Homo sapiens: one gene and its partners. Changing the gene in region 2 together with the main gene of any one other region gives a genetic interaction. Each region holds a gene or a part of one and is shown on either strand. Other genes may lie near its edges. The genes, in order: GAGE1, FLT3, PCDHA13 and GAGE12F.

Region 1 (6,846 bases), on a different chromosome or scaffold from region 2:
CAGCCCAGCTTTAGACCTTTCTCCTAAATGACAATCTAAGGATAAACCACAGGACATGTATAATGCTTATATTCAGCCCTAGAGTACCAACAGCAGTGTGCGTCAGCTGAGAAATCTGAAGTCTACCACGTGGGTAGGATTTCAGTTACAATTACAATGTCAGTTTCTGAAGGATTGATTAGCTGGATGGATTTGAGGACTATGGAAAATCTTACAGTCACGACACCCATTACCTATTGGGGTAAAGAGAAACTTCACTTTGTTCAAATAAAGTTATATTTAGGTCCGAAGGTCCTAAAGGTAATATTCCATAAATGAACCCCGTGAAGAACAAAGCACCAAATATAACATTGTTTGTGAATCACAGAAAATATACTGTCCCCCGCACTGAGAATAAGGGAGTGGGCGGACAGCAATTAATGGGCATTGTTGTCAGTCAGATTCTAGGAACTTTTAACAGTGCATCCCTGGAATAATCCATGACCTCCGTTACATAAATGCTTCCTTTCAAAACATTTTATCTCGGAGAAATTATTTCCATCTCACGTTAATCTCAGGATAATTCCGTTTTTGCTTTTCTAACCATAAAAGGATTTAATCACCTCCTAAAGGCCGCTGAGAAAAATCACTAAACCAGCTACCTGTATGGCAGTATCCTCATTTATCCAGCTTTTATCAAACGTACCATATAAAAATATCAATCAAAGGAAACGGGGGCCAACATTCAGCGACTCGGTTTTTGGAGCTGCTCCTGCTCCTCTGAACTGGGTCTATTCTTGGGTCAGTACTAAGCTACCTTACAGTAAAGCCTTTTGAGTTTTAAGCATTTTCAGCAAAATCACTTCCTTCTTTACAGCAACATACATGATAGGAAGACACAAACCTTGGAACACAGTACAAATGTTGTATTCACCAGTCAAGGGTTCTTGGATAACACACAATCCTGGCACCTCCATTCTCTCATTCATAAAGTCGAGATCTTTTACCATAGTGAGGGATTTGCCTAAGCTAAGCTGCGAACTACATAGCCTCCTCGCTTTTCCAGTCAATTTCAGGCATTCTTTCCATTGTTTTCTTTCCTCCTCTTCCTCCTATGTGACAATGCCTAACACACACACACACACGTGCACACACACACACACGAACACACACACACGCACACACCAGCAGACGTTCTTCTTCCCTTTCCCTCACCTTGACCTGCAGATGCTCCCTCATCCTCTCCCTCCTGAGCAGCTGCAGGATCCTGACGTTGAGTTGCTGGTTCCCCTTCTTCAGGTGTTGCTGGTTCCACTTCATCACTGAACTGCTCGGGCTGGGGAATACGTGTGGGTGTGCAAATAAAAAATAAGTTTCGTTATTGATACAAAATTTTACATATATACACAGAATACATAGCTATTTCTGGTCCTAACTAAGCCTAAAGACATTTCTCCAACTCTATGCTCTATGCCCAATAAGGTTACTCCACCCACAGGGAGGTTACTGTGAGAAAAGTGACGCACGAGGACTTTGGGGGCTATTATACTCTGTGTTGGAATACATGTGTACAATCTGTCATTAACAAACAAAGCCGGAGAAAGAAGTCATGGGCAAAAGCTGAAGAACACGAGAGGAAAAAAAAAATCCTCCAGAATCAATGTTTCCTTCATGAGATGCCATCCTCATTTTTTATGAGCAGGAAAGACCTTTATCAGCATTTCCACACTAATGCAACGACGCTATCACAAAAATTAATTTCTACTAATAGAAAACATCGAATTAACGTTTAAGCACTCACCCGCATAGGCCCAATCATTTCAGGAGGCTGTACATAGCGCCTTGGTCTAGGCCAATAATAGGTCGATCTTCCTCGCCAACTCATATTTCACACTGAAAACAGACAACCGTGATTGGGAACGTGCGCTCCAGAGGGCTGCTATATTCGATCACTTCCATGGATAAATGTTAACTTGCCGTTTTACTTTTGAAAATACTCTCAAAATAAGTCCCAGAGTTAAGCATACGTGTGTACGCTGTCTGAGTGCCTACAAAGCCACTTCTGCTGGCCAGGCTGGCAGAGCAATCATCTTAAGGCGTGTGGCAAAAGGCAGAGGACATTTTTTTCTAAATTTCTTTTGGACACGCGGTCTCGCTGTGTTGCTCAGGCTGGAGTGCAGCGGCGTGATCACAGCTCACTGCAGCCTCGACCTCCCGCTCAAGGGATCCTCCCACCTCAGTGTCCCCAGTAACTGGGAATACGTAGGCGAGCGCCACTGCGCCCCGCAGACAGAGGTCATTTCTGATGAGGTTTAGTTTCACAAGTGCACTCCCCACGAAAACCCTAGTGAATCACAATTCTCGTGATTGCTGCTTTGGGCACACTCCCACTTCCTAGAGCCATTCACCCCCCCTCACAACAAGTTTGGTTGGACCGCACTGCCTCGCCCACTCCTTCCCACTGTTTTCGGACCTTCCATGGCGGAGGTGAGACCTTGCAGTGCTTCTCACTCGGGCGCTCCGCACTCCACACCGCTGAGGGGGCGCTCGCCAGGCCGCAGCCTTCCCAGGTGCCAGGCCCCTTCTTCACCGCCCGCCTCGCCCCCGCCGGGGGCCCCATTCAGGGAATCTGCCCTGTGTCGTCGGGGATCCCGGCACCTCGGGACTTCCATCCCCCCAACAGCACTCACCCCGTCTTCACCTGAGCCCCTGACCGCCTCCCCTCCACGGCCCACCTTCCTCCCCGTCCAGGCCCCTTCACGACCACGAAGCCGCCGGTGGCCTCGCAGCCTGTGAAGGGAAGGAGGACGACCTCGTGGCCCTTCTCCCTCGGAGGCCACAGACCAGGAAGCGGGACCCGCCTGACCCACCCGAGGCCCTCTCCACCCTCACTCACACTTCAGCCCCCGGGATGACTGGCCTGCACACCTACCAGATGAATCTCAGTAGAGGAAAAAGAGTCCGGACGGCAGGAACCACACAGCACTGCCTCACAGCTCCCTGGCGTTCTTCACGTGGGCGAAGGGGCCGGGCAGAAGACGCCCAGTGAACATGCGCACTGAGGCGGGAGCCCAGGGAGCATGCGCGGCTGTGGGCTGGGGAGGGCTGCCGTTCCCAGCGCCACGCCCCAAACCCTCCATGCCCATCCTCATTGAGGATAAGGGAATCCCACCTCCCTCTGCTGTTTCCTATGCCTCTGGGACTCAAGTAGTGCTCCCCTCAAAACTCACCCCATCTTCAACTGAACCCCACCCCCAACCCAGGGCCCTCTCTTGCCCCGGACCCACCATGGGGACAAGGACCACTGTGACTGGCTGGGAAGACAGGTAAACCACCTGCGAAAACAGAAATAGCAACCTATCCCAAAAGGAAATTGTTCAATGTGAACAAGTCAGAGAAAGAGACTGAAAGAAAAATGAATAGAATCGCTAGGACCCGTAAGAAAATGCTAAAACGATATCTATCATTTGTAGCATCAGAATCGCAGAGGGTGAAGTGACAGTATTAGGGAAACAGGACAGCCAGAGTGACACCACGTGAAAATATACTCCGTCTTGAAAGCAGCAAGATACATAGTCCTACCAGTCACAACCCATGGTCCTAAGATGTTTGGAGTTGAGAAAACAGATGAAAGGTACCTCCAAGGACATGCTCCCACAGCAGCGGAAAGTGCACGGTTCCCAACACCCATTAACAATATATGCTTTCAACAGAATTATGCTTTCATGGACTTACACACTGGTAAGTCAAGGACAGTTTTCTTTAAATCAATAGAATGATAAAAGTCATCATGCTCTTAGCCCACCCGCACAAAGGCACAGATTAACTTTAGTCTTTATATAGATAAGACCCCTATATAAGAAAAACCAGACCAGGCCAAGGCTCACGCCTGTAATCCTAGTATTTTGGGAGGCTGAGCTGGCCAGATCACCTGAGCTCAGGACTTCGAGACCAGCCTAAGCAACATCAGAAAATCTCATCACTACAAAAAACAAACAAAAAACCATCGAAAAATTAGCTGGGCATGGTGGCATGTACCTATACTCACAGCTCCTCAGGAGGCTGAGGTGGGAGGCGCGCTTGAGCCCAGGAGGTCAAGGCTGCAGCGAGCTCTGATAACACCACCGCACTCCAGCCTCGGTGACAGAGTGAGACGCTGTCTCAAGTTTTAATAATCGAACCTAAAAACGTACAAATTTATCAATCGAATTCACTATATTAACACATGAATGGGAAAAAACGCTGTGGTAATCGAAATAGATGCACTGTTTGATGAAAATCAACATATATTCAAATGAATACTCTCAGCAAATTTGGAACAGAATGCAATGACTCACTCTGATAAAGTCCGTCTACAAAAAAAGGAGAGTGAATAGGATGGTGAAATGTTGAAATTTTTCGGTTTCTCATCAGGGATAAGACAAGGATGTCCACTGTCACCATTGTAACGGGTGGGTCTGCGCAATGCCATAAAATCAGAAAAGGAAATAAAACTCTTTACAATGGCAACGACGGGCCCGCCACGGTGGCCCACGCCAGTAATCCCAGCACTGTGGGAGGTGAGGTGGGTGCATCACTTGCACTCAAAAGTTCAACAACAGCCCGGGAAACATGGCAAAACCCCGTCTCTACAAAAAAATACAAAAGGGAAAAGAAAAAAATATGGCGGAAACAAAACTGCTCTTATTCCAGGATGATATGTTTCTGTATATTGAAGACTGAAAACGACCTAGAAGTAAACTTTAGAATTCACAAGCATATTTCACAAGGCCGCTGGATAGAAAACCAATATGTAAGAATTATGTCTCCACCGGGCGCGGAGGCTCATGCCTGTAATCCCAGCACTTTGGGAGGCCAAGGCAGGTGAATCACGAGGTCAGGAGTTCAAGAGCACCCCGGCCAAGATGGCGAAAGCCCATCTCTAGTAAAAACACAAAACTTAGCCAGGCGTGCTGGTGGGTGCCTATAATCCCAGCTACTCGGGAGGCTGAGGCAGACAATTGCTTGAATCCGGGAGGCGGGGTTGCAGTGAGCAGAGATCGCGCCACTGCACTCCAGCCTGGGCGACAGAGCAAGACTCCGTCTCAAAAGAGGACAAAGAAAGAAAGAAAAAAAAAAGAACGATGTCTCTACATACCAGCTCAGAGAGTTACAATACACGATTTCAAAGAATGATACATATTTCACAGCATCAAAAAGCTAGAAATAAACTTCACAAAAGATGCGCAAGACTTCTTTGCAGAAGGCTGTAAAGCTTTATTGGGAGAATTTTAATGAACAAATTTCCAACATAGGAGCAGCCTGCATCATTTCAACGTGTCTTCTTTTAACACTGTGATTGCTTTTCACCTGTAACAGAAACACAACGATTGGGAACATGACTTAGCAACAGATTATTCAGATGACCCTAAAGGCATACAAAGCACACTACAGTTTGGGTTTTATTAAATGGACTAAAAACAGAACCCTATGGGTGATCCCGTGTCTTACACGCAATTGAACCTCTGCATAAACTTTGAGCGTAGACCTGCAGAATTTAAAAGGAATTTCCTCCCTGAACATCAAGTGCTTCCTTTCAAGTCACAAGCACTTACAATTAACAGTCAGCAATTTGGAAAACACATGTGTAAAGCATACTTCAGTTGATTACTCAGGAAGTACTAGAGTCATGGTCTTTCAACTTCAAATCTTATCAATTCATGTCTCTAAAGGTGAAACTTACATGTAACATTTGATATGATTAGAGATGATTATATCGTATGTGTGTCTACAGTCTTATTAGAAATAGTGGCTCATGAAGACTGACAGTGGGGCAGGGAGCATGCATAGCACAGGCATCTTACTCACACCCATGCTGAGCATCACTGACCTACATGCCACAGATGATACGAACTAAACGGTCTCTCGCCATTTGATATTTATTTCAGTCACTCAAGGTTTCCGTGGGGAAAGATTTAAGAAGCAATTGTACCATTTGACCCAGCCATCCCATTACTGGGTATATACCCAAAGGACTATAAATCATGCTGCTATAAAGACACATGCACACGTATGTTTATTGCGGCATTATTCACGATAGCAAAGACTTGGAACCAACCCAAATGTCCAACAACGATAGACTGGATTAAGAAAATGTGGCACATATACACCATGGAATACTATGCAGCCCTAAAAAATGATGAGTTCATGTCCTTTGTAGGGACATGGATGAAACTGGAAATCATCATTCTCAGTAAACTATTGCAAGAACAAAAAACCAAACACCGCATATTCTCACTCATAGGTGGGAACTGAACAATGAGATCACATGGACAGAGGAAGGGGAATATCACACCCTGGGGACTGTTGTCGGGTGGGGGGAGGGGGGAGGGATAGCACTGGGAGATGTACCTAATGCTAGATGATAAGATAGTGGGTGCAGCGCACCAGCATGGCACATGTATACATATGTAACTAACCTGCACAACGTGCACATGTACCCTAAAACTTAAAGTATAATGATAAATAAATAAATAAATAAATAAATAAATAAATAAAAGAAAAAAAAAGAAGCAATTGTTCATTAAAAGCCAGAGAAACCCTGCCTGGGCAACACAGTGAGACCTCATCTCTACAAAAATGAAAACAAAAAAATGTAGTCAGGCACGGTGGCTTGTGCATGTAGTTCCAGCCACTCGGGAGGCTGAGGTGGGAGGACGGCTTTAGCCTGGGAGCCAGAAGTTGCAGTGAGCTGAAATTGCATCACTGCACTCCAGCCTGGGTGACACACTGAGACTCTGTCGCAAACAAACAAACAAACCAAGAAGAGGGAGAATTCACAATTTCACAAGATCTTACACTACGTATTCAGCTCTCCACACGGAAAAA
Region 2 (7,022 bases):
GGGACATTGCCTGATTGTCTGTGGGGAGTAGAGTATATGTAGAGTGGTTGTTAGGACTGAAAATGATTATTACTGAAACAGGATGTGAGAGATTATAATGAGTTGTCCACTATTTATAATGTCACACAGGAATTCTGTTTCATCGCTGAGTGACACTCTTTTGTTGCAGGCCCCTTCCCTTTCATCCAAGACAACATCTCATTCTATGCAACAATTGGTGTTTGTCTCCTCTTCATTGTCGTTTTAACCCTGCTAATTTGTCACAAGTACAAAAAGGTAAAAGCAAAGGTAAAAATTCATTATTCTTTCCTCTATCTGCAGAACTGCCTATTCCTAACTGACTCATCATTTCATCTCTGAAGCAATTTAGGTATGAAAGCCAGCTACAGATGGTACAGGTGACCGGCTCCTCAGATAATGAGTACTTCTACGTTGATTTCAGAGAATATGAATATGATCTCAAATGGGAGTTTCCAAGAGAAAATTTAGAGTTTGGTAAGAATGGAATGTGCCAAATGTTTCTGCAGCATTTCTTTTCCATTGGAAAATCTTTAAAATGCACGTACTCACCATTTGTCTTTGCAGGGAAGGTACTAGGATCAGGTGCTTTTGGAAAAGTGATGAACGCAACAGCTTATGGAATTAGCAAAACAGGAGTCTCAATCCAGGTTGCCGTCAAAATGCTGAAAGGTACAGTATAGTGGAAGGACAGCAACAAAGATGCACAAAAATGGGAGGCACAGTTTCCCACCCATGCCTTCTTCTCTTTTCCATCCTTTTAATGGTTACTGTTTGCCATGTTTCAAGGCTAAAAATGGAGTGGATTGGGGTGTCAACCCAGTCATGAATACAAAATTCAAGTCATAAATACAAAACTCCACCTCTTCTTCCACTTCTCTCTTTGTTTATTTTTATTTTCTTTTATTTTTTTGAGACAGGGTCTCACTCTGTCACCTAGGCTGGAGTACAGTAGTGTGATCATGGCTCACTGCAGCCTCCACCCCCTGGGCTCAGGCTCCTCAGCAGCTGGGGCTACAGGCGTGCACCACCACGCTCAGCTAAGTTTTTTATTTTTGGTAGAGACGGGGTTTCACCATGTTGCCTAGGCTGATCTGGGACTCCTGAGCTCAAACTATCTGCCCGCCTCGGCCTCCCAAAGTGTTGGGATTACAGGCGTGAGCCACTGTGCCAGGCCTATTTAGTTTTTATAGGCTTTGATATTTGGGGATACAGTTGCCACAGGCAGAAGTTCTTTCTTACATTTGTGTTGTTTTATTTTTAGAGACAGGATCTTGCTCTGTTACCCAGGCTAGAGTGCTGTGATCATAGCTCACTGCAGCCTCGACCTCCTTGGCTCTAGCAATGCTCTCACCTCAGCCTCACAGGAGTGTGCCAAGACAATTGGCTAATTTTTTTTTTTTTTTGTAGATACGGTGTCTCACCATATTGCCCAGGATGGTTGCAAACTCCTGGCTCAAGTGAGGCTGCCTTGGCCTCCTAAAGTGCTGGGATTACAGGTGTGGGTTGAAACAGACTCTGGGTAGGAGAGAAAACTGGGGCCCTTTGTATCCTCACTTCGTTGCTCCATCCATTCCGATCTGGCGTCCAGCCCCATTGCTGGCCTCACCGTTACCACCGCTGACCCAGCAAAAGCATCTCCAGCTGGCTCTCTTGCTAAGGTCAACAGTGACTTCAAACCAAACCAAGCCTAATGGATATTTTTCAGTCCTCATTACTTGATTGTTCAGCATGAATTGATGCTGTTGATTCTTCTCTCCATCCAGAAGCTTTCTTTCTTTGGGTTTTGTGTCACCATATTCTGGTTTTCCTCCCACCCCTCTGCCCTTCTCAGTCCTTTGTGGGCTCATCTTCTTCCATCCAGCTTTTGTTGTTGTGGCTGATTTTGAAACTCAGTCCTTTGTGGGCTCATCTTCTTCCATCCAGCTTTTGTTGTTGTGGCTGATTTTGAAACACAGCCTTGCTCTGTTGCCCAGGCTGGAGTGCAGTGGTGTGATCTCAGCTCACTGCAACCTCCACTTCCCAGGCTCAAGCCATCCTCCCACTTCAGGCCCCTGAGTAGGGGGGACTACAGGCATGCGCCACCATGCCTGGCTAATTTTTGTATTTTTGGTAGAGATGGGGCTTCGCCATGTTGCCCAGGCTCCATCCAGCTTTTTATGGGGCATCCCTGTGGGCTTGCTCCTGGACCGCCTTGCGTTTTCGCTCCACACACTCAACACAGTCCATCCCCACTACACCCGTGATGTCCTCCCATACACCAAGGGCCCTCATGCTTGCGTCTCCTTTCGGAGCTTCAGGTTCATATGTTAAATGTTTGGATGTCTCAAAGGTCCCTTTAACACAGTGTATGCAAGGTGAATTCCCCTAACCCTGGCCCTGCACCAGCAGTCCTCTCTGTGACTGGTAATGAATGCCAGTGAATAAATAACCACATTCTATATAGTTGGGCACACTAGAAACCCGTGACTTTTCCTTGACACCTTCCTCTTTCTAACACCCTGTGAGCTAATCCTATCAGGTTTCCGATTAGTGTCTCTTGATTCCATCCTCGTCCCTCCATCTCTATGACCACCACTCTAGTTCAAGGCTCTCTCCTGGACAAAAGCTTCCAAAGCAGGTTCCTGTATCCACTCTTGCCTCCCTTTGGCTTCTCCATACTGAGGTCCAAGTGACAGTGGCGAAAGGCTAAGCAGATCAAATGGCTTTCCTACTTCACATTTCCTCCACCACCCGCATGGCTGGGCCACCGCTGCCTCCCCACCTCTTGCTCTCGGCACCCCAGAGCGCTGGCCTTCTTTCAGTTCCCCCAGCACTGTCCTCCCACCCACTGTGGGGCCTTTGCACAAGTGGATCCTTCTGCTTCCCCTTCCCCTTTCATGTAAGTATCTCCCACTGCCCCCTCAGATCTCAGCTTAAACACCACTTCCTCTGTCTCACACCACAGACAATATTGAGGCCCTTGCAATGTGCGACATTAGCTCTCTGCAGGCTTTCCCCCGTAGAATCCATCACCTTTGTCATGACATTTTTTAACATCCAATTGTTGTCCCATCTGTCCAGTAGCCCCTGTGCCTCATGAGGGCAGGGTCTGTGTCTGTGGTGCTGTGCTCTCTCCTTTCTCGACCTTTGCCCACTCTTTCACAACCCTCAGCACTGTTCTCCTCCCCTTCCACCATGAGTCACCTGGCCAGCTCCCATTTTTCTTCAGGACTCAGTTTAGACATTGAATGCTCCTTTCTCCACCCCTCCAAGGCTAAGGTAGCTATCCCTTTTGACCCTACAGTACCCCTGCACTCCTTTGCCACGTTGCATTTTTTCTTCTTTTTTTGAGACGGAGTCTCACTCTGTCGCCCAGGCTGGAGTGCAGTGGCACCATCTCAGCTCACTGTAAGCTCCGCCTCCTGGGTTCACGCCATTCTCCTGCCTCAGCCTCCCTAGCAGCTGGGACTACAGGCACCCACCACCACGCCCGGCTAAATTTTTTTGTATTTTTAGTAGAGACAGAGTTTCACCGTGTTAGCCAGGATGGTCTTGATCTCCTGACCTCGTGATCCGCCTGTCTCAGCCTCCCAAAGTGCTGGGATTACAGGCATGAGCCACCGTGCCCAGCCCAACGTTGCATTTTTTCTTTTTCTTTCTTTTTTCTTTTTTTGAGATAGGGTCTCACTCTGTCACCCAGGCTGGAGTGCAGTGAAGTCATCATAGCTCACGGCAAGCTTCAAGTCCTGGGCTCAAGTGATGGTCTGCAGCCTTTCCAGTAACTGGAACTACATGCAGGCACCACCAAGCCCAGCTAATTTTTATTTTATTTTATTTTATTTATTTATGTATTTTTACTTTATTTTATTTTTAAGTAGAGACAAGCTCTTGCTATTTTGCCCGGGCCTTTCTTGAACTTCTGGGTACCAGCAATTCTCCCGCTTGTCTCAGCCTCCCAAGATGTTGGGATTAGAGGCGCGGGGACCCACGTCTTGCCTGCCGTATTGCATTTATGGCACTGTATTGTCATGGCTTATTTACTTCTCTGCCTTCTCCAGGAGACTCTAAGATCCAGGAAGACAAGGGTTGTGTCTTGTTTTTCCTTCATTCCCCAGTGTCTAGGACATTGGCTCTTACAGAGTAGGCACTCAATAAATACTTGTTGAATGACTGAATGAAAGAGGTAATGGTACATGAAAATGCTTAGAAGAAGCTAAGCATGCTAAAAAATGTAAGATATTATTTTAGCCATGAGGAATAGGACATGAACAAGTAAAGCCCCGAATCCCTGTCCAGCGTGAAGCTGAAGACATGATGTATTAGGGGGTCCCAGTGCCCACAGGAAATCCCACCCCCAAGCTAAAATCTTGGAAACAAGGATACCCCTGAGAGCTTGCCCAAACCAAAATAGAGGATGTCAGCACCGGAGAAGCCACTATAAAGGTTAGGATGCCTTCCTGGACAAAATAATGGAACCTGGCAATCGAACCAAATCTTCACTGAATGTAAAGAAGAGTTACTATATCTGGAAGAAAAAGTCTGTTCACAGAGGGGTGGTGCCTGGAGCCTGGAGAGGGAAGTCCAGAGACCCTGCCCTTGCCCCTGTGGCTGCCCGGGCTGCCCTGACCAACTGCACATGAGCCGCAATGACGGGAGCCCTTGGATTCCATAGTGACTTTCCTCACACTGTGCTTCTAAGTCAGCTTATAAGTACAGTTTGCTGAGCTATCTGGAATTTTCCCTAGAGAGAGAATGCATTGGCCAACCAATATGTTCTAGCCTGCTTGGCAGTTTTATTTCTCAATGTCAATTAATGGGTCTCTTGAGCACCTGATAGTGGGAATTAGTCCTCTTTGACCTTCTCCCATTGGACTTGCTGGCAAATCTAATGTTCTAGACCTGAGGGCCACAGGCTAGAGTCAACCATGCTCACGACACTGTTATCTCTCTCTGACTACAACAGATCCAAGAGTTCAAACAAACAAACAAAAAGGACGTTTCTCCCTTCTGTTAACTTGTACTGAGGAGGAAAAGCATGTGTTATTATTTTGTTTGTTTGTTTTGAGGGCCAACTGTAAGGATTTTTATTTTGGTAGGTAGAGGAAAGTCCTGTTGAAAGGTGCATTACCAGATTCAACATTTATACTATAGTCTTTGTTTTGTTTTGTTTTGTTTTGTTTTTGAGACAGAGTCTCGCTCTGTCACCCAGGCTGGAGTGGTGCAGGGGCTCAATCTCGGCTCACTGCAACCTCTGCCTCCCCAGTTCAAGGGATTCTTTTGCCTCATCCTCCTGAGTAGCTGGAATTACAGGTACGCACCGGCACGCCCGGCTAATTTTTTGTATGTTTAGTAGAGACAGGGTTTCACCATGTTGGCCAGGTTGGTCTTCAACTCCTGACCTTAAGTGATCCACCCGCCTTGGCCTCCCAAAGTGTTGGGATTACAGGTGTGAGCCACTGCGCCCAGCCCTATACTACAGTCTGAATTCTGCCTTAGGCTGGGCATGGTGGCTCATGCCTGTATTCCCAGCACTTTGGGAGGCGGAGTTGGGAGGATTGCTTGAATCTAGGAGTTCAAGACCAGCCTGGGCAACATGGTGAGACCCCATCTCTACAAAAAATATAAAAATTAGCTGGGCATGATGGCCTGTGCTTGTAGTACCAGTAACTTGGAGGGCTGAGGTAGGAGGATCACTTGAGCCCAGGAGGCAGAGGCTACAGTAAGCTGAGATCATGTCACTACACTCCAGCCTGGGTGACAGAGTGAGATACTGTGTCAAAAAAAAAGAAAGAAAGAAAAGGAAAAAAAAAAAAGAAAAAGGAGAAATTCTGTCTTAAAACACAGGATATTGTTTGTTTGTTTATTTATTTATTTATTTTAAGATGGAGTTTCACTCTTGTTGCCCAGGCTGGAGTGCAATGGTGCAGTCTCAGCTAATTGCAACCTCTGCCTCCCACATTCAAGCGATTCTCCTGCCTCATCCTCCCAAGTAGCTGGGATTACAGGTGCCTGCCACCACGCCTGGCTAATTTTTGTATTTTTAGTAGAGACGAGGTTTCACCATATTGGCCAGGCCAGTCTTGAACTTCTGACCTCAAGTGATCCACCCACCTCGGCCTCCCAAAGTGCTGGGATTACAGGCATGACCCACCATGCCTGGCTTCTCTCATAATTTTGAATTTAAATAAATAATGCAGATTGACTCTGAGCTGAGAAAAATTTTATTTAATGACATAAAATTCGTATTTTACTTGAGTTTTACATTTTTAATGCTCCTTTCTTTGACAGAAAAAGCAGACAGCTCTGAAAGAGAGGCACTCATGTCAGAACTCAAGATGATGACCCAGCTGGGAAGCCACGAGAATATTGTGAACCTGCTGGGGGCGTGCACACTGTCAGGTAACCCACTTCCACGAAAATCACCTCATCAAAAAGACTGTAGCTTGATGACAAAGAGGATGTTTGCTCTCTCTCTCTCTCTCTCTCTTTTTAATTCTTTGTCTTTTCTCAGTCACAGTGTGAACTCTCAAACCCAAGTGGAATTAGACACTGAGCACTCTATAAATCAGAGGGGTCAAAATAAAGAATGCCTCATTCATCTGCTTTATCGTGATATATTGCATAATTCTCACCTGCTTAAAAACAACAACAACAACAACATTGCAAGTACATTTGGTGGTGTCTGTGCTTCTCTCCCAGCTTGGAAGCTGGTGCACAGGCGTGGTGAGAGTGGTTACAGAGCCTGGCCACTGCCCCAGTTGGGCTGCCGTCAAATACGGCACAGCCTAGCTAGGATATCAGACTTTACTTTCCCAGAATTCTCTGGGGCATGCCCTCTGATCTTCTCTCTTCTGCCTAGAAATACCCAAATGATGTGCCCAAGGTTCATTCTTTCTGCAGCAGCAGGCCTGGGGCTGGTACTAAAAGAAAGGAAAAAGAGGAAAGTGAATCTGAGAGAGGACTGGGAATATATTTCTCCCTCCTCAAGCAAACAGCAAATCAGCATATAGTTACCAAGTGTT
Region 3 (8,021 bases), on a different chromosome or scaffold from region 2:
AACGTGACGCTGCAGGTGTTCGTGCTGGACGAGAACGACAACGCGCCGGCACTGCTGGCGACTCCGGCTGGCAGCGCAGGAGGCGCAGTTAGCGAGTTGGTACCGCGGTCGGTGGGTGCGGGCCACGTGGTGGCGAAAGTGCGCGCGGTGGACGCTGACTCCGGCTATAACGCTTGGCTGTCCTACGAGTTGCAACCGGCGGCGGTCGGCGCGCACATCCCGTTCCACGTGGGGCTGTACACTGGCGAGATCAGCACGACACGCATCCTGGATGAGGCGGACGCTCCGCGCCACCGCCTGCTGGTGCTGGTGAAGGACCACGGTGAGCCCGCGCTGACGTCCACGGCCACGGTGCTGGTGTCGCTGGTGGAGAACGGCCAGGCCCCAAAGACGTCGTCGCGGGCCTCAGTGGGCGCTGTGGATCCCGAAGCGGCTCTGGTGGATATTAACGTGTACCTCATCATCGCCATCTGTGCGGTGTCCAGCCTGCTGGTGCTCACGCTGCTGCTGTACACTGCGCTGCGTTGCTCAGCGCCGCCCACCGTGAGCCGGTGCGCGCCGGGCAAGCCCACGCTGGTGTGCTCCAGCGCCGTGGGGAGTTGGTCTTACTCGCAGCAGAGGAGGCAGAGGGTGTGCTCTGCAGAGAGCCCGCCCAAGACGGACCTCATGGCCTTCAGCCCAAGCCTTCAGCTGTCTCGAGAAGATTGTTTAAATCCTCCCAGTGAAGTAAGTTATTAATATTATTTAGATATATTTGTTTCCTTGAAGAACTTCCGTTTAGGTTATAACTACATTCTCTCATTTTTCTTTATGATTCTATCCTTTAAACTATCGAATGTCTCATCTTTCTTGGTCATTCTTACTCATTTTGAACTTTTATGTATTTGTCTAACATTAATGAAGGAAATATGTAGGTACAATGGAGGCCATGGAGCACCACACTTAATATTTTTCTTTTTCTATAATATTTTATATGACTGATGAACCTTGAAAAAAACAGTATATTAGATTAAAAAGTGGCCAGATGTTTGATAACTTAAAAATTTAATTTGTTCATAATTTCAAGATTACAGGTAAGTTGCAAGAATGGTACAAAGAGTTCCTAGATCCCATTAATGGATTCTTTAACTCTTCCTCACGTGCTTAGGCTTTTAAAATAGCCTTCTTGATCACTATTCTAATTTCAGTACAATCTAGACATTTTCACATTATATTCCAGGTATTATCACAATAATATAAATGATATGTCTGACATATGATGAATGATTTTCTTCATTGCTCACAAAATATCTTCTTTATTTCAAGTAGGAATAGATACTGTACTATTCTTATTTACATGAAATATAATAAAATCATTTCTCAATTTAAAAATATTTAACCATCTGTACGATACAGTACAGTTGGTAACCAACTGTGGCTCAAACCAGTTTCAGATGATCCCAAACTTATCATAGTATACCACTGCCCTGTGCCTATTACCAAGTGAATCTTCTAATGTGCATTTTACATATTTTAACTTTCTATTTCTACAAAAATATCCAGAGGCTTCTCTTTAACCAGGGAATAAAGTCTTACATACCCCAGCCTGGTAGTAAAGGCATTAAAATTTCCAGCCTTATATCTACTTTCTTACATATCTTTAGTTTAGGATCTGGAATATAGTATATGTTCAATCACTTTTTAAAAACATATGGGGGTCTTGCTATGTTGCACAGGCTGGACTAGAACTTCTGGGTTCAACTGATCCTCCATTTCAGCCTTTCAAGTAGCTGAGACTACAGGCAGGCTCCACCACTCCCAGCTTCAATCAATAATTTTAAATAAATATATGGTATTGAAATGTATTACCTGGACATTCCCCTCTATCTTAGAAATGAGAGTATGCCCTAGAAATCAGATAATGTTTTATTGAAGAGTGTCTTGAAAGATAGACAACATTTTACCAAGAAAGTGTTAAGAGAGATAAGTAGGAACAACTGCACAGTATATGGTGTAATTGAAGGATTAGAGCAGGGGAGATTGTGAAGGCAGGAAAGCTATTTCTTTTTTAATAAATTAGGTATCAAGTAATGGAGACTTAAATTATGGCAGTAGAAATGAATTGAAAAAGACATATACAAGAGGCACTGGCAAAGTAGAAGCAGCCAGATAATGACAGACTCAATACAAATGATAAGAGAAAAACAAAAGTAGAAGTTGACTCTCACTTTTTTAGTTTGTTCAGCTGAGAAGATGACATTGCCATTAACCAACCTGCAGAACAAGGTTGGAGAAACAGTTTGTGTGTATTTGAGCAGGTAGGGAATGGAGATGAACATTTAAGAAAATGTTACTTTGAAGTCCTAAGAGAATACCGTTGTGATTGGAAATATGGGTCTGGATCTCAGAAGAGATTATTGATATAGATTTTGGGAACAACTCCTTTAGAGAAAAAAATAATCCATGAAAGAATAAAATTGCCAAGACAGACATTGAAAAGTGAAAAACAATGTGTCCAGGTACTTAGGTGGGTAAGTGTGTCGCTTCCTGTGGCTGCTATAACAAACGAACACAAACTGGGTGCTGTAAAACAGCAAAAGTTTATTATTTCTCAGTATTGGAGACCAGAAGTCCAAAATCAAGGTGTTGTCAAGGCTATACTCTCTTTGGAGGCCCCAGGGAAGAATCTGGTTTTTGTTTCTTCCAGTTTCTATTGGCTGTTGGTGTTCCCTGGCTTGTGGCTGTACCACTCCCATCTCAGCCTTCTCAGCTTTCATGGTCACATTGCCTCCTCCTCTCCATGTCTCTCTCTATGTGTTGGTTTTACAAAGGTACATGTGATTGTATTTAGGGCCCATCTGGATAATCCAGGATAAACTCCTTTCAAGATCCTTAACTTAATCATATTATTCACCATATAAAGTAAAATCCACAAGTTCCAGGGATTAAGATGTGGGCATAACTTTTTGGGGACCACAATTCAACCTATTATAGTAGGCTTAAAATCATAGAAGGATAGACAACAGGAAGCTGAAATAAAGCTCAAAGTGCAATATATCAAGTATATGTTAGAAGTTAAACATGAAGGGAAAAAGATAAACAGAAGAGGTTTTCCACCAGAAGTAGAACATTTAAATTAGTGTATGTGCGTGTGTGTATGTATACATATTTTAGTTAAAGAAGTTTGACTATCTTCATAGTGTGAGTGAAAGAAACAAGTAAAAAATAAGATACTAAAAATAAGACAGGCAGCAGGTGAATTTAGATGAAAACCATGAGAGAATAGAAAATAATTTTTAAGAGCATATGGTTGACCTTAAAAGCGGGAACAGTTTTTCCTTACAACTAGTAGAAAATGAAAACAGATAATATAAGGAAAAATGACACAAGAAGAGAGCAATTGAATTTCTGTTTGGTCACATCTCTCAATGTGTGAATCATCTGAAAGTGAACTGATGGAAATGAGGTTGAGAATTTGAGAAGAGAGGAAAGAGAATATGGAAGAATCTCTGTAAGCAAGAGGGAGGAGTTAATTATCAATTCACTTGAGAGCCCAACTGAGGTAAAGGTGAGAGTAAATTTGAAGAGAATAGTCATGGTTAAGTGACAATGTTGAGCAGCTTAATAGGAAGCATAGAGAAAATGGATTGTCAGTGTAACTGCGTGTTGGAGGCTAAAAAGAATGTTAGAGGAGTAATATAAATAGGTGAATGACTCTAGAGTGTCTGGAAGGGCATATTTTAAATGGTTGACTATGTAGTCTAATTATGTGAAGAGGTAAATAAAGAAATGTAGGGCCAGATAGAAAGAATTAGAAGAGAAATACTATGTTAGTAAAAGTAATGGAGCAGGAGAGGATGATGAGGGTAAGAGAATACCAAATACTCTGCCTAAATTTTCAGAGGAGAGCAGAGCTATGGAAATAAACCCAACAGTCATTTCCTATAGAGTTGTGCACAGAACAGGCCAGATAATTATTGGAGCTATGATATATTTTTCATTACACCATTTGGCCTGGGATTTTGTGGCTTGGTAGAGATAGTTATAACAATAGATAAAAGTAAGATCCTCTTCCTCTTTTCCTTGCTAAAGATATGTTAACATCTTTGTCTAGCTGTTGTTTCTTGGAAAATTAAAGTCAATTTAAATGACGGCAAGGTTTTACTCAGTGATGATGAAGTAAGATGGAGAGAGAAAATGGAAACTTTAACCTCCTGGTTAAATTCTATTTAACCAGGACGCCGATTCGGGCTACAATGCGTGGCTTTCGTATGAATTGCAGCCGGCGGCGGTAAGTTAAATTCTATTAAATCAATAGGATATTAGTTCCAGGCATATTTTATAAAAACAGAATCCAAAACCTTAGAGCATTGTTGTGGCTAAATTATTGTGTTTATGCACATACACACACTCACATACAAAATCCCACACATATTGACTGAACACTTTCTTTTGAATATAAATATCTTATCTACATCTCAAGTCACATTGAGGGAAATTTATTAATATGATGTGCTTATTCAAAATCTGATATATCAGTTACCAATATTTTTCACCTTCACCGATTTTATTCTTATGTGATTGTTATGTTTCCTTTTGGAGTCAATGGCTGTTGTGTGAGGAGGTCTTGAAAAATATTACAGGAAGAGGACAGTACCACAAAAACCTACATGACTATGCAGAACTACCGATCAATTGTCCCAAAACGAGTGTCGAATATTCTTTGTCTTAAAGTTCTGCATGGAATTCTTACACATGGAAAAATAAATTTGTGGCAAAATGAAACTCATCAACCAATTGTCAGCTAATATAAAATGTTGAGCAGAATGCAGTGATTTGCTGTTTCTGGGAAGGTAAACATTTAATCTTCAATTACATATTTGCAGTGAAAATGTCAGGAAATGCAAGGGGCAAAAAAATACTACATCAATGGAAAATATGAAGACTGAGTCATACTTACACTTACACGTTCATGCGCATGGTGTCGCTCTTCACTGAGAACGTTTCCGCGAAGAAAGCCGCCGTTTCTTTCTTCCTGCAGAAAATATAGCAGAAAGCGGAATACCTCTTGCGAATCCTTCCGCACTAGGAAGCCATAAAAATTGGGCCTTGAGAGACAGTTTGAGGTAAGGCGTTGTATATATTGCAGATAGCTCTGAGGTTTTTGGAGTGTACCATGCTGTCTTCCTGGCAAGGAGGCCCAAGACCGCGGCAACTACTGCTCTGGCTTCTGATCCTCGCAGCCTGGGAGACGGGTAGTGGCCAGCTCCACTACTCCGTCCCCGAGGAAGCAAAACACGGCACCTTCGTGGGCCGCATCGCTCAGGACCTGGGGCTGGAGCTGGCGGAGCTGGTGCCGCGCCTGTTCCGGGTGGCGTCCAAAAGACACGGGGACCTTCTGGAGGTAAATCTGCAGAATGGCATTTTGTTTGTGAATTCTCGGATCGACCGCGAGGAGCTGTGTGGGCGGAGCGCGGAGTGCAGCATCCACCTGGAGGTGATCGTGGACAGGCCTCTGCAGGTTTTCCATGTGGAGGTGAAGGTGAGGGACATTAACGACAACCCGCCCATATTCCCTGAAAGCAAGAAACGAATAATCATTGCAGAATCTAGACCTCCGGAAACTCGATTTCCACTAGATGGCGCATCCGATGCAGATATTGGAGTAAACTCGGCATTGACCTACCGACTGGATCCCAACGATTATTTCACTTTGGACGCACAAAACAGTCTTGAGCAAATGTCTTCATTATCACTTGTACTGAGGAAAACACTGGACAGAGAGGAAATTCAGGAACATAGTTTATTACTGACAGCCAGTGATGGAGGTAAACCCGAGCTGACTGGCACAGTTCAGCTGCTCATCACGATTCTGGACGTGAATGACAACGCCCCGGAATTTTACCAATCCGTTTATAAAGTGACGGTGTTAGAGAACGCCTTCAATGGAACATTAGTGATCAAGCTAAATGCCACAGATCCTGATGATGGTACAAATGGAGATATAGTTTACTCATTTAGAAGGCCTGTATGGCCTGCAGTGGTATATGCATTTACCATAAATCCGAACAATGGAGAAATTAGGACAAAAGGCAAACTAGATTTCGAAGAAAAGAAATTATATGAAATATCCGTGGAGGCAGTTGACAAAGGAAATATTCCAATGGCGGGTCATTGTACCCTTTTGGTGGAAGTACTAGATGTAAATGATAACGCCCCAGAGGTTACCATCACTTCTTTGTCACTCCCCATCAGAGAAGACACTCAGCCTAGCGCCATTATTGCCCTAATCAGTGTGTCCGATCGTGACTCTGGCTCAAATGGACAGGTCACCTGCACCTTGACGCCGCATGTCCCCTTCAAGCTGGTGTCCACCTACAAGAACTACTACTCATTAGTGCTGGACAGCGCCCTGGACCGCGAGAGCGTATCAGCCTATGAACTGGTGGTGACCGCGCGGGACGGGGGCTCGCCTTCGCTGTGGGCCACGGCCAGCGTGTCGGTGGGGGTGGCCGACGTGAACGACAACGCGCCGGCGTTCGCGCAGCCCGAGTACACGGTGTTCGTGAAGGAAAACAATCCGCCGGGCTGCCACATCTTCACGGTGTCTGCTCAGGACGCGGACGCACAGGAGAACGCGCTGGTCTCCTACTCGCTGGTGGAGCGGCGGGTGGGCGAGCGTGCGCTGTCGAGCTACGTGTCGGTGCACGCGGAGAGCGGCAAGGTGTACGCGCTGCAGCCGTTGGACCACGAGGAGCTGGAGCTGTTGCAGTTCCAGGTGAGCGCGCGCGACTCTGGCGTGCCGCCTCTGGGCAGCAACGTGACGCTGCAGGTGTTCGTGCTGGACGAGAACGACAACGCTCCGGCGCTGCTGACGCCCGGGGCTGGCAGCGCGGGAGGCACAGTGAGCGAGCTGATGCCGCGGTCGGTGGGTGCAGGCCACGTGGTGGCGAAGGTGCGCGCGGTGGACGCCGATTCGGGCTACAATGCGTGGCTTTCGTATGAATTGCAGCTGGCGGCGGTCGGCGCGCGCATCCCGTTCCGCGTGGGGCTGTACACTGGCGAGATCAGCACGACGCGCCCTCTGGACGAGGTGGACGCGCCGCACCACCGCCTTCTGGTGCTGGTGAAGGACCACGGTGAGCCCGCGCTGACGGCCACGGCAACGGTGCTGTTGTCGCTGGTGGAGAGCGGCCAAGCGCCACAGGCTTCGTCGAGGGCGTCGGCAGGCGCTGTGGGTCCAGAAGCGGCGCTGGTGGATGTCAATGTTTACTTGATCATTGCCATCTGCGCGGTGTCCAGCCTGTTGGTGCTCACGTTGCTGCTGTATACTGCGCTGCGGTGCTCGGCACCGCCCACCGAGGGCGCGTGCGCGCCGGGCAAGCCCACTCTAGTGTGCTCCAGCGCGGCAGGGAGTTGGTCGTACTCGCAGCAGAGGCGGCCGAGGGTGTGCTCTGGGGAGGGCCCGCATAAGACGGACCTCATGGCCTTCAGTCCCAGCCTTCCTCCTTGTCTGGGTTCTGCAGAGGGAACAGGCCAGAGGGAGGAGGACTCAGAATGCTTGAAAGAGGTAAGCTTATATTTTAAAAAATTGTCTTAGTAAACACTTTAGCCTTCCTTGCAGTTGTTTGTTTAAGACATCTTTCCTGCCAATTTCAAATTATTCTTTACTTTAATTTTAATTTTGCTAGTTGTTATCGAATTTAACAACTCTGCTGTGGACATTATGTGTTGGATTATCCTTCAGAGTGAAATCTTAACTCACAAACCATAATGAAATGTGCAAAACAAGAATATTTTGTTTCTGTTGTATTCTTAATAGTTCTAAGTATTTATCTTGCAATTGAGCATTTACAAAAAATTCCTCACGTTGTGAGAACTTAAACATTTAGAAAATGTTTGTTTTAATGAGGCTAATCGTAATCTTAAATTTAAAAAATTTTTAGTTTAATGTATACATATACCCACAAGATATTATTTTAAAGAGCCCCATAACTTTTCACATAAATGCTTTTTTTAAGTGCACTTTTCTTTCTTTCTTT
Region 4 (7,519 bases), on a different chromosome or scaffold from region 2:
TTCCCGAACTCCTGACCTCAGGTGATCCACCTGCCTCGACCATTGAAATTGCCGGGATTACAGGCGAGAGCCACCGTGCCCGACCCAGCATTATATTTTTAATAACGGAGAGGTAACAATACTGCCTCTTTAGTAACAGAGTTCTTATATAAAGGTTATTTGAAACGTAGTTCAGGCCCCAGCACCCGACTGATAGACTGTCAGGTAGGGAAACAAACTGAGTCAAAGCTATGTTGAATTAAAAGTTTTGAGTGTAAATCCTTAAACCAGTAGCTCACAATTTTCAGATGCTTTTGTAAAGGTCTGCTTTTAATCAATACATAACACGTTTGTAACACCCATCACTTGGTGTGAAAAATGCTGAAGCACTCATGCGGGTTCTAATACCAGCTCTTACAGCCTTGGCGAGATTCTGAGTGAGTCCTTTCCCTTCTAAACCTATCTTTGGTTCTTATGAAAATAGTGAGTTTAAGTCAGAGATTTTAAAACCATTTTGCATTCCGTTTCTTTCATACTCTGATCCTGTTGCATAGAATGCGTGGGACACAGAGATCATCTGCTTCGCATGGTTTGTTAATCACAAATCATGAAACCCTGGCCCGAGTCATCTGAAAATCTCTGAATTGAGATTTCATTGTCAGTAAGACAGTGAGCGGGCCCTCTGCTTCATCCTAGTTTTTCCGTGTGGAGAGCTGAATACGTAGTGTAAGATCTTGTGAAATTGTGAATTCTCCCTCTTCTTGGTTTGTTTGTTTGTTTGCGACAGAGTCTCAGTGTGTCACCCAGGCTGGAGTGCAGTGATGCAATTTCAGCTCACTGCAACTTCTGGCTCCCAGGCTAAAGCCGTCCTCCCACCTCAGCCTCCCGAGTGGCTGGAACTACATGCACAAGCCACCGTGCCTGACTACATTTTTTTGTTTTCATTTTTGTAGAGATGAGGTCTCACTGTGTTGCCCAGGCAGGGTTTCTCTGGCTTTTAATGAACAATTGCTTCTTTTTTTTTCTTTTATTTATTTATTTATTTATTTATTTATTTATTTATTTATCATTATACTTTAAGTTTTAGGGTACATGTGCACGTTGTGCAGGTTAGTTACATATGTATACATGTGCCATGCTGGTGCGCTGCACCCACTATCTCATCATCTAGCATTAGGTACATCTCCCAGTGCTATCCCTCCCCCCTCCCCCCACCCGACAACAGTCCCCAGGGTGTGATATTCCCCTTCCTCTGTCCATGTGATCTCATTGTTCAGTTCCCACCTATGAGTGAGAATATGCGGTGTTTGGTTTTTTGTTCTTGCAATAGTTTACTGAGAATGATGATTTCCAGTTTCATCCATGTCCCTACAAAGGACATGAACTCATCATTTTTTAGGGCTGCATAGTATTCCATGGTGTATATGTGCCACATTTTCTTAATCCAGTCTATCGTTGTTGGACATTTGGGTTGGTTCCAAGTCTTTGCTATCGTGAATAATGCCGCAATAAACATACGTGTGCATGTGTCTTTATAGCAGCATGATTTATAGTCCTTTGGGTATATACCCAGTAATGGGATGGCTGGGTCAAATGGTACAATTGCTTCTTAAAACTTTCCCCACGGAAACCTTGAGTGACTGAAATAAATATCAAATGGCGAGAGACCGTTTAGTTCGTATCATCTGTGGCATGTAGGTCAGTGATGCTCAGCATGGGTGTGAGTAAGATGCCTGTGCTATGCATGCTCCCTGCCCCACTGTCAGTCTTCATGAGCCACTATTTCTAATAAGACTGTAGACACACATACGATATAATCATCTCTAATCATATCAAATGTTACATGTAAGTTTCACCTTTAGAGACATGAATTGATAAGATTTGAAGTTGAAAGACCATGACTCTAGTACTTCCTGAGTAATCAACTGAAGTATGCTTTACACATGTGTTTTCCAAATTGCTGACTGTTAATTGTAAGTGCTTGTGACTTGAAAGGAAGCACTTGATGTTCAGGGAGGAAATTCCTTTTAAATTCTGCAGGTCTACGCTCAAAGTTTATGCAGAGGTTCAATTGCGTGTAAGACACGGGATCACCCATAGGGTTCTGTTTTTAGTCCATTTAATAAAACCCAAACTGTAGTGTGCTTTGTATGCCTTTAGGGTCATCTGAATAATCTGTTGCTAAGTCATGTTCCCAATCGTTGTGTTTCTGTTACAGGTGAAAAGCAATCACAGTGTTAAAAGAAGACACGTTGAAATGATGCAGGCTGCTCCTATGTTGGAAATTTGTTCATTAAAATTCTCCCAATAAAGCTTTACAGCCTTCTGCAAAGAAGTCTTGCGCATCTTTTGTGAAGTTTATTTCTAGCTTTTTGATGCTGTGAAATATGTATCATTCTTTGAAATCGTGTATTGTAACTCTCTGAGCTGGTATGTAGAGACATCGTTCTTTTTTTTTTCTTTCTTTCTTTGTCCTCTTTTGAGACGGAGTCTTGCTCTGTCGCCCAGGCTGGAGTGCAGTGGCGCGATCTCTGCTCACTGCAACCCCGCCTCCCGGATTCAAGCAATTGTCTGCCTCAGCCTCCCGAGTAGCTGGGATTATAGGCACCCACCAGCACGCCTGGCTAAGTTTTGTGTTTTTACTAGAGATGGGCTTTCGCCATCTTGGCCGGGGTGCTCTTGAACTCCTGACCTCGTGATTCACCTGCCTTGGCCTCCCAAAGTGCTGGGATTACAGGCATGAGCCTCCGCGCCCGGTGGAGACATAATTCTTACATATTGGTTTTCTATCCAGCGGCCTTGTGAAATATGCTTGTGAATTCTAAAGTTTACTTCTAGGTCGTTTTCAGTCTTCAATATACAGAAACATATCATCCTGGAATAAGAGCAGTTTTGTTTCCGCCATATTTTTTTCTTTTCCCTTTTGTATTTTTTTGTAGAGACGGGGTTTTGCCATGTTTCCCGGGCTGTTGTTGAACTTTTGAGTGCAAGTGATGCACCCACCTCACCTCCCACAGTGCTGGGATTACTGGCGTGGGCCACCGTGGCGGGCCCGTCGTTGCCATTGTAAAGAGTTTTATTTCCTTTTCTGATTTTATGGCATTGCGCAGACCCACCCGTTACAATGGTGACAGTGGACATCCTTGTCTTATCCCTGATGAGAAACCGAAAAATTTCAACATTTCACCATCCTATTCACTCTCCTTTTTTTGTAGACGGACTTTATCAGAGTGAGTCATTGCATTCTGTTCCAAATTTGCTGAGAGTATTCATTTGAATATATGTTGATTTTCATCAAACAGTGCATCTATTTCGATTACCACAGCGTTTTTTCCCATTCATGTGTTAATATAGTGAATTCGATTGATAAATTTGTACGTTTTTAGGTTCGATTATTAAAACTTGAGACAGCGTCTCACTCTGTCACCGAGGCTGGAGTGCGGTGGTGTTATCAGAGCTCGCTGCAGCCTTGACCTCCTGGGCTCAAGCGCGCCTCCCACCTCAGCCTCCTGAGGAGCTGTGAGTATAGGTACATGCCACCATGCCCAGCTAATTTTTCGATGGTTTTTTGTTTGTTTTTTGTAGTGATGAGATTTTCTGATGTTGCTTAGGCTGGTCTCGAAGTCCTGAGCTCAGGTGATCTGGCCAGCTCAGCCTCCCAAAATACTAGGATTACAGGCGTGAGCCTTGGCCTGGTCTGGTTTTTCTTATATAGGGGTCTTATCTATATAAAGACTAAAGTTAATCTGTGCCTTTGTGCGGGTGGGCTAAGAGCATGATGACTTTTATCATTCTATTGATTTAAAGAAAACTGTCCTTGACTTACCAGTGTGTAAGTCCATGAAAGCATAATTCTGTTGAAAGCATATATTGTTAATGGGTGTTGGGAACCGTGCACTTTCCGCTGCTGTGGGAGCATGTCCTTGGAGGTACCTTTCATCTGTTTTCTCAACTCCAAACATCTTAGGACCATGGGTTGTGACTGGTAGGACTATGTATCTTGCTGCTTTCAAGACGGAGTATATTTTCACGTGGTGTCACTCTGGCTGTCCTGTTTCCCTAATACTGTCACTTCACCCTCTGCGATTCTGATGCTACAAATGATAGATATCGTTTTAGCATTTTCTTACGGGTCCTAGCGATTCTATTCATTTTTCTTTCAGTCTCTTTCTCTGACTTGTTCACATTGAACAATTTCCTTTTGGGATAGGTTGCTATTTCTGTTTTCGCAGGTGGTTTACCTGTCTTCCCAGCCAGTCACAGTGGTCCTTGTCCCCATGGTGGGTCCGGGGCAAGAGAGGGCCCTGGGTTGGGGGTGGGGTTCAGTTGAAGATGGGGTGAGTTTTGAGGGGAGCACTACTTGAGTCCCAGAGGCATAGGAAACAGCAGAGGGAGGTGGGATTCCCTTATCCTCAATGAGGATGGGCATGGAGGGTTTGGGGCGTGGCGCTGGGAACGGCAGCCCTCCCCAGCCCACAGCCGCGCATGCTCCCTGGGCTCCCGCCTCAGTGCGCATGTTCACTGGGCGTCTTCTGCCCGGCCCCTTCGCCCACGTGAAGAACGCCAGGGAGCTGTGAGGCAGTGCTGTGTGGTTCCTGCCGTCCGGACTCTTTTTCCTCTACTGAGATTCATCTGGTAGGTGTGCAGGCCAGTCATCCCGGGGGCTGAAGTGTGAGTGAGGGTGGAGAGGGCCTCGGGTGGGTCAGGCGGGTCCCGCTTCCTGGTCTGTGGCCTCCGAGGGAGAAGGGCCACGAGGTCGTCCTCCTTCCCTTCACAGGCTGCGAGGCCACCGGCGGCTTCGTGGTCGTGAAGGGGCCTGGACGGGGAGGAAGGTGGGCCGTGGAGGGGAGGCGGTCAGGGGCTCAGGTGAAGACGGGGTGAGTGCTGTTGGGGGGATGGAAGTCCCGAGGTGCCGGGATCCCCGACGACACAGGGCAGATTCCCTGAATGGGGCCCCCGGCGGGGGCGAGGCGGGCGGTGAAGAAGGGGCCTGGCACCTGGGAAGGCTGCGGCCTGGCGAGCGCCCCCTCAGCGGTGTGGAGTGCGGAGCGCCCGAGTGAGAAGCACTGCAAGGTCTCACCTCCGCCATGGAAGGTCCGAAAACAGTGGGAAGGAGTGGGCGAGGCAGTGCGGTCCAACCAAACTTGTTGTGAGTGGGGGTGAATGGCTCTAGGAAGTGGGAGTGTGCCCAAAGCAGCAATCACGAGAATTGTGATTCACTAGGGTTTTCGTGGGGAGTGCACTTGTGAAACTAAACCTCATCAGAAATGACCTCTGTCTGCGGGGCGCAGTGGCGCTCGCCTACGTATTCCCAGTTACTGGGGACACTGAGGTGGGAGGATCCCTTGAGCGGGAGGTCGAGGCTGCAGTGAGCTGTGATCACGCCGCTGCACTCCAGCCTGAGCAACACAGCGAGACCGCGTGTCCAAAAGAAATTTAGAAAAAAATGTCCTCTGCCTTTTGCCACACGCCTTAAGATGATTGCTCTGCCAGCCTGGCCAGCAGAAGTGGCTTTGTAGGCACTCAGACAGCGTACACACGTATGCTTAACTCTGGGACTTATTTTGAGAGTATTTTCAAAAGTAAAACGGCAAGTTAACATTTATCCATGGAAGTGATCGAATATAGCAGCCCTCTGGAGCGCACGTTCCCAATCACGGTTGTCTGTTTTCAGTGTGAAATATGAGTTGGCGAGGAAGATCGACCTATTATTGGCCTAGACCAAGGCGCTATGTACAGCCTCCTGAAATGATTGGGCCTATGCGGGTGAGTGCTTAAACGTTAATTCGATGTTTTCTATTAGTAGAAATTAATTTTTGTGATAGCGTCGTTGCATTAGTGTGGAAATGCTGATAAAGGTCTTTCCTGCTCATAAAAAATGAGGATGGCATCTCATGAAGGAAACATTGATTCTGGAGGATTTTTTTTTTCCTCTCGTGTTCTTCAGCTTTTGCCCATGACTTCTTTCTCCGGCTTTGTTTGTTAATGACAGATTGTACACATGTATTCCAACACAGAGTATAATAGCCCCCAAAGTCCTCGTGCGTCACTTTTCTCACAGTAACCTCCCTGTGGGTGGAGTAACCTTATTGGGCATAGAGCATAGAGTTGGAGAAATGTCTTTAGGCTTAGTTAGGACCAGAAATAGCTATGTATTCTGTGTATATATGTAAAATTTTGTATCAATAACGAAACTTATTTTTTATTTGCACACCCACACGTATTCCCCAGCCCGAGCAGTTCAGTGATGAAGTGGAACCAGCAACACCTGAAGAAGGGGAACCAGCAACTCAACGTCAGGATCCTGCAGCTGCTCAGGAGGGAGAGGATGAGGGAGCATCTGCAGGTCAAGGTGAGGGAAAGGGAAGAAGAACGTCTGCTGGTGTGTGCGTGTGTGTGTGTTCGTGTGTGTGTGTGTGCACGTGTGTGTGTGTGTGTTAGGCATTGTCACATAGGAGGAAGAGGAGGAAAGAAAACAATGGAAAGAATGCCTGAAATTGACTGGAAAAGCGAGGAGGCTATGTAGTTCGCAGCTTAGCTTAGGCAAATCCCTCACTATGGTAAAAGATCTCGACTTTATGAATGAGAGAATGGAGGTGCCAGGATTGTGTGTTATCCAAGAACCCTTGACTGGTGAATACAACATTTGTACTGTGTTCCAAGGTTTGTGTCTTCCTATCATGTATGTTGCTGTAAAGAAGGAAGTGATTTTGCTGAAAATGCTTAAAACTCAAAAGGCTTTACTGTAAGGTAGCTTAGTACTGACCCAAGAATAGACCCAGTTCAGAGGAGCAGGAGCAGCTCCAAAAACCGAGTCGCTGAATGTTGGCCCCCGTTTCCTTTGATTGATATTTTTATATGGTACGTTTGATAAAAGCTGGATAAATGAGGATACTGCCATACAGGTAGCTGGTTTAGTGATTTTTCTCAGCGGCCTTTAGGAGGTGATTAAATCCTTTTATGGTTAGAAAAGCAAAAACGGAATTATCCTGAGATTAACGTGAGATGGAAATAATTTCTCCGAGATAAAATGTTTTGAAAGGAAGCATTTATGTAACGGAGGTCATGGATTATTCCAGGGATGCACTGTTAAAAGTTCCTAGAATCTGACTGACAACAATGCCCATTAATTGCTGTCCGCCCACTCCCTTATTCTCAGTGCGGGGGACAGTATATTTTCTGTGATTCACAAACAATGTTATATTTGGTGCTTTGTTCTTCACGGGGTTCATTTATGGAATATTACCTTTAGGACCTTCGGACCTAAATATAACTTTATTTGAACAAAGTGAAGTTTCTCTTTACCCCAATAGGTAATGGGTGTCGTGACTGTAAGATTTCCATAGTCCTCAAATCCATCCAGCTAATCAATCCTTCAGAAACTGACATTGTAATTGTAACTGAAATCCTACCCACGTGGTAGACTTCAGATTTCTCAGCTGACGCACACTGCTGTTGGTACTCTAGGGCTGAATATAAGCATTATACATGTCCTGTGGTTTATCCTTAGATTGTCATTTAGGAGAAAGGTCTAAAGCTG

The links.
Region 1: changes in FLT3 (region 2) and GAGE1 together harm fitness less than expected from each alone (positive genetic interaction), as found in Homo sapiens cells (one study listed by BioGRID).
Region 3: changes in FLT3 (region 2) and PCDHA13 together harm fitness less than expected from each alone (positive genetic interaction), as found in Homo sapiens cells (one study listed by BioGRID).
Region 4: changes in FLT3 (region 2) and GAGE12F together harm fitness less than expected from each alone (positive genetic interaction), as found in Homo sapiens cells (one study listed by BioGRID).

Annotation. Positions count from the first base shown.
Region 1 is NC_000023.11:49,595,193-49,602,038, reverse strand, and holds the start of GAGE1 (G antigen 1), read right to left. Parts: upstream 3,020-6,846; 5' UTR 2,912-3,019; intron 1,873-2,911; 5' UTR 1,865-1,872; coding exon 1,781-1,864; intron 1,316-1,780; coding exon 1,195-1,315; intron 1-1,194. Other genes in the region: GAGE2A (G antigen 2A/2B), read right to left, coding at 5,306-5,328. UniProt on the Homo sapiens protein: Antigen, recognized on melanoma by autologous cytolytic T-lymphocytes.
Region 2 is NC_000013.11:28,027,555-28,034,576, reverse strand, and holds part of FLT3 (receptor-type tyrosine-protein kinase FLT3 precursor), read left to right. Parts: intron 1-169; coding exon 170-276; intron 277-362; coding exon 363-495; intron 496-585; coding exon 586-690; intron 691-6,288; coding exon 6,289-6,399; intron 6,400-7,022. UniProt on the Homo sapiens protein: Tyrosine-protein kinase that acts as a cell-surface receptor for the cytokine FLT3LG and regulates differentiation, proliferation and survival of hematopoietic progenitor cells and of dendritic cells.
Region 3 is NC_000005.10:140,877,114-140,885,134, forward strand, and holds the start of PCDHA13 (protocadherin alpha-13 isoform 1 precursor), read left to right. Parts: upstream 1-5,010; 5' UTR 5,011-5,155; coding exon 5,156-7,549; coding exon of another isoform or gene 7,550-7,579; exon of another isoform or gene 7,580-7,767; intron 7,768-8,021. Other genes in the region: PCDHA12 (protocadherin alpha-12 isoform 1 precursor), read left to right, coding at 1-726. UniProt on the Homo sapiens protein: Potential calcium-dependent cell-adhesion protein. May be involved in the establishment and maintenance of specific neuronal connections in the brain.
Region 4 is NC_000023.11:49,556,336-49,563,854, forward strand, and holds the start of GAGE12F (G antigen 12F), read left to right. Parts: upstream 1-4,506; 5' UTR 4,507-4,614; intron 4,615-5,653; 5' UTR 5,654-5,661; coding exon 5,662-5,745; intron 5,746-6,210; coding exon 6,211-6,331; intron 6,332-7,519. Other genes in the region: GAGE12E (G antigen 12B/C/D/E), read left to right, coding at 2,198-2,220.